Linked DNA regions of Homo sapiens: region 2 is linked to region 1. A link means that fine-mapping ties the variant in region 1 to the expression of a gene that starts in the linked region. Tissue or cell type: CD4 T cells. Region 1 holds a variant in brackets; the other region holds the start of a gene. All regions are shown on one strand. Distances are from middle to middle.

What was found. PIP is the estimated chance that this variant, and not a neighbour inherited with it, causes the effect.
Region 2: PRKAR2B starts here. The variant in region 1 is fine-mapped to the expression of PRKAR2B in CD4 T cells (BLUEPRINT, PIP 0.95).

The regions. Positions count from the first base shown.
Region 1 is chr7:106,065,519-106,068,203 of GRCh38, forward strand. No RefSeq gene overlaps it. Among named protein-coding and RNA genes, the nearest start is that of SYPL1, 45 kb to the right of the region's middle. The variant C/T (reference allele first, on the strand shown) is at 1,192.
Region 2 is chr7:107,043,231-107,045,915 of GRCh38, forward strand. PRKAR2B (protein kinase cAMP-dependent type II regulatory subunit beta) reads left to right here and starts at 1,475. Exons shown (of 11, transcript NM_002736.3): 1 at 1,475-1,984. The coding sequence starts at 1,678. RefSeq lists silencers at 1,228-1,787, 1,574-1,868.

The DNA.
Region 1 (2,685 bases):
GGCTCACCGTTTGGCTGGACTGGAGGTGAAGCTTCTTGGTGGCTCCTTCCCAGCCTTCTATGGAAGCTGGAATCCACTCTCCCGAGGCCATTTCTCCTCCCGGGGTTCCCTCTCTGCAGCCTCAACCCCCCAGTGCCCTTTGTCCCCTAAAGCGAGCAGTTTGTTTTCAGTCCAATACCTCCAGGGGATGGGGGGGGGCGCCTGGAGGAGTGTCCCAGGAGAGGGTCCCACCAGCCACGCTGCCCTGAACCCCCTTAAAATGGGGGTGGTGTGACAGTAACTTAGAGACCACTTAGATGACCTCAGGCATTCTGAGAAATCTAAAGGCTGATCTGAAGCCAGAGGAGGAAAGTTCATTCACCTTTGTCCCAGCCCCTCCCCGACTCCAGGACTCTAGCGTTGGCTGTTTTTATTTGCAGTCCAGCGTCCGGAATGAGCGGAGTTCCTTTTGGGAAGGATGTGCGGCAGGTGTGCTCACTCTGCCCGGGAGCGTCTCCCCGCCGAGGAGCGCCCATGCTGACTGCGAATTGTTCCACACTGCACGCAGAGCATTCCTTTAGCAGCCTCTTGTTTTCTTAAGTGACTCTCTACAACTGTTTCCTTGGAGGCGTTTGTCTAAATAAGCTCTTCTTCTAGGCAAACTGGTGGGGGGAATTGATTCACTATCCTCAGAAATTAGGAAGCATGAAATTATACTGGCTCTGCTACCGGGGAACAAAGAGCAGGGGCGTGGTGTGCAGCGGCCAGTGCAGGGCCCAGGACAGGGTGTGGGGGCTAATCACAGCCCGCGGGGTGGGTGGGAAGTGCCCCAGCCCCAAGCTGGGACTGTGCTTCTCGGCACCTTCCACACCTTATGTAGCTCCCCTTTGGTCTCCACGTTTCTGGAAGTCACAGCTGCACCCTGGGTCACCTTAAGCTTTTTCACAGTGGACCACATGTGATTCTGAGTTACATTACTTTAACCTCAAGAGCTTGACTATTTTCTATATCGTGAAGTTATAAAAGGATAGTGGAATCTCACAGTCATTTGAGAGACAATACTTTTTTTCGACCATATGAATGTTTTGTACCATGGAGACAGTGTGAGCCAGGCTAGGAGGTCTGGTCAGAGACACTTATTTTATTTTTAGTTTTAGTTTTTGTAGAAATGAGAGTCTCACTATGTTGCCTAGGCAAGTCTTGAACTTCTGG[C/T]CTCAAGCAATCCTCCTACCTCGGCCTCCCAAAGTTTTAAGATTACAGGTGTGAGCCACTGCACCTGGCCAGACACACTTAGTTTAAGGAGCAATGTGCTATAGGCAAGAAAGCCAAATATATCTCAGGTCAAATCTGGCTCTGCTGTGTGATTTGGGGCAAATTAATGAACCTCTCTGCACTTCTGTTTCCTCATCCATCAAAGGGGAATAATAAAACCTATCTCACTGTGCTGTAAAGATTAAATAATGAAATGGATGCAAACTACCTCACATAGTACCTGGCCCACAGCAAGTTCTTAACTAAAGAGAACTCTCTTTCTCTTCTAAAACCTAGGATGCCTGAGGAGTCTAGGATTAGGAATCTCTGAATATTTACTAGTAGCATTGCTGGGGTGGATCAGAAATATTTGGGAAAAAAGTTAGGAGGAAAATGGCACCTATGAGGATGTCATAGTCATCAGCAATGAAGGATTTGAGAAGTTCTTTAGCAGAAATCAGGAGATTACCTCTTTCATTCAAACCCTAGCGAAGGATGCTTTACACTATGACTATGATTACAGAGAAATGAGAATATTTTCCATTTGTGATATAGAAAAACCATTCCCTTAACTGGGGGCCACATGCTGTAGGGAGTTCAATACCATTCTCCAAGTACATGAGGCCCAACCTACATCCTGGTTCTGTCTCTTTCCCCAGCCCTGGTCCTTTGCAAGAGGTAAAAGTCTTTATAAGTGCATGAGAATAACTGCTCAAAATCACTTTTAGGTTTCCCCCAAATTCTCCTGATCTCTAATAAAAACAAATAATTGAGGGGATGTGACATTACCCTTGGTCACTAGTGATTTAGAGCTTCTGTCCATTGCTCCTTGGAGCTGCTCATCCTCAAAGGTACCCCAGGCAGAGGCCAGCAGCGAGTTCAAGGCCTTGTCAAGAAGGTTTTCCTTTAATAATACGCATCCACATACACAAAACACAGGCCTTCCTGGAATTGCCAAAAGACAGCAGCTGCAAAAAGGACTTGGACAAGAAAGTTTATTGCAGCTTTATTCCAAACAACCCAGATGCCCATCAACAGGAGAATGGTAAACAAATTATGGCATATTTATACGATGGAATATTACACAGTTATAAAAACAGCAAATTTTTGAAATGTGAACCTCACAGTCATGATGTTGAAAGAAACAAGACACAGATAAAAAAGTACATATTGTGTAATTCTATTTATAATGGAGTTCAAGAATCAGCAATGTTAATCCTAGATGACGGAAGTCAGATAGCAGTTACCTTTGGGTAAGCATGCTTACTTTGGACTTGGAAGGGGCACAGATAGCTTTCTGGGGCTGTGGAAATGTTGCGAATCTTGGTTTGGGTAGTTACATGGGTGTATGCGTAGATAAACATTCACAGTGATGTGCGCTCAAAATTGTGCATTTTATGGGACATAAATTAAAAACGTAAAAATATTGAAAAACAGAAATTGGAGAAGTGTTAA
Region 2 (2,685 bases), 980 kb after region 1:
CCTCCTGGATTCAAGCGATTCTTCTGCCTAAGCCTCCTGAGTAGCTGGGATTACAGGTGCCTGCCACCATGCCCGCTAATTTTTGTATTTTTAGTAGAGATGGGGTTTCACCATGTTGGCCAGGCTGGTCTTGAACTCCTGACCTCAGGTGATCCGCCCACCTCGGCCTCTCAAAGTGTTGGGATTACAGGCATGAGTGAGCCACTGCGCCCGGCCAAAAGTTTAATTCTTAAAATGCTCGACACAATTAGAAGCACTTAACTACTGTATATTTAAAGCAACGTAACATTATTACTATAAAGTTGTTAAGAAATGAAAATAGAGAAATACATTGGCTCATGGAGTCAATACAGGATGCATCATTAACAAAGGGTTAACATCAAGATCCATTTTTACAAGAGGGACTAGTTCGTTACATCTCTGATTTCTAGACTTGGAGTTTCCCCAGTCATGTGTTTACTCTTCCGTGGGTGGGAAGATAAATCAGAATAACCAAGTGAGCTTGCTCTTGAAATATTTTATTTACAATGATATGATAATTGTAGAAAATGAAGTATGCGTACTTAAATAGAATTTAATTGACAAAAGACAATTTTCTCTACTTCAAAATTGTAAACATTTGCAAAGTAAGCCTCATTTCAAAGTCAAAGCCTTCTACTTTAAAAGCACACATTAGTAATTCTATTTTTCTTTATACTGAAGTATTTCAATTTTTGGACATACAAGTCAAAAATCATTCAAAGCATAAAGGAAAGTTTCAAAATAATAAGCGCCTCATCCTGCACTATCCTATTTAAAAGAGATCAACTAACTTTGATAGGTGCCTCTCAATAAATGGTGCCTTTGTCTCAATAAATAGTAAATGCGTGGAGTGCACAACGGAATAGCATCAGTAAGACGAAACATAATAAACAGGATGGATCGGGAAAGGCTGGATAAAATGTGGGGAAGAAAAAGAAAGACGTCACAAAGATGGGGTAGCATTTCTTTGTCCAAAAGAGAACCAGTACCACCATAAGACTTTAAACAAAGGACATTAGCAACACTTATCATGCAACTAGATTCTAGAAGGAAAATAAAATGCCACTACTAAGGTGGAGGCTGAAGTTTCAAGACAAATCTCCTGGCACCACCTCTGCGGGGGTTCACCATGGCGAATGACGCCTGGGAAGCGGGGCGAGTGGCCAGCCCGCTCCTGGACGCGCGGACAGGTGGACACGAAGGCGGCCTCGCTGGGCCTCCCTCCGCCTCTCCCGGCCCGGGCGCGCAGCCCTGCGGTGGTCTGACAGGCGGGTGCGCGGCGCCAGCCAGCGGAGGTTGCCATGGTTTCCGGGGGTCACGTGGGCGCGCTCTCCTGCGCCCCCTCCCGCGCACCGCGGCGGGGCGGGGGCGGGGCGCCCGGGCGGGGGAGAGGCGCGGCCGCGGCTGGAGCGGGAGGAGCAGGAGATGCTGCCAGCCCTCCCGGGGCCGCGCTCGCTCAGCCGCCGCCACCACACGGAGCAGACGCGCGCCGGGAGCCGCGGGCCGGGCCAGCCGGGCCGCCGGGGCCCAGTGCGCCGCGCTCGCAGCCGGTAGCGCGCCAGCGCCGTAGGCGCTCGCTCGGCAGCCGCGGGGCCCTAGGCCGTGCCGGGGAGGGGGCGAGGGCGGCGCCCAGGCGCCTGCCGCCCCGGAGGCAGGATGAGCATCGAGATCCCGGCGGGACTGACGGAGCTGCTGCAGGGCTTCACGGTGGAGGTGCTGAGGCACCAGCCCGCGGACCTGCTGGAGTTCGCGCTGCAGCACTTCACCCGCCTGCAGCAGGAGAACGAGCGCAAAGGCACCGCGCGCTTCGGCCATGAGGGCAGGACCTGGGGGGACCTGGGCGCCGCTGCCGGGGGCGGCACCCCCAGCAAGGGGGTCAACTTCGCCGAGGAGCCCATGCAGTCCGACTCCGAGGACGGGGAGGAGGAGGAGGCGGCGCCCGCGGACGCAGGGGCGTTCAATGGTGAGGACCAGACCCCCCACTTCGCGCCCCCGGATCCCCTCGCTGCCCCCCACCGCTCCCCGCTGTGCTCTCGGATCTTGCCGCTTTGCGCACCCACCTCTCCCCGCATTCTCCACCTTTCCCTACCTTCCCATCTCGCCCACCCCCTCAGCATCCATTTCTGTCTCTCCCACTCGCCCACCTTCCTACTCCGCTCTCTGTCATACCCTCTTCCCTTCCTCTAGAGGTGGGAGAGCTGGGATGTTACGCTTCCCTCTTACCCTTTGCCCCCTCTGCCTGGGCCGGTTGGGGTGGGCATCTGCTAGAAAGACAACTTTCGCTGTGGTTGGAGGTATTTCGCTTAGAGGATACCATTGTGCATAAAGAAACTGGCCCGCTTGGCGTCTTCTTTCAGCCCTTGTATTTATTAATGGAATGTCGAAAGAGAAAAGGAGAACCGTGTTTAATATGATTGGCTTTACTGTTGTTAGGACGGTAGATTCGCTAAAAGAAGCATGAAATTGGACTCACTGGGGCAGAACAAAATTTATGGCCAGTAGCTCTGACATTCTTGGAAATAAGAGTTATCTATTATTTTCCAATTTACCAATACCGTGTTGTGTTATTTTTGGACACGTAACAAAGGATTCTATTTAGTCTGAAACCCACGGGGGTCTTTGGAACGAGGAAATGGGTTAATGGTTTGCTTTTTATATAAAAGA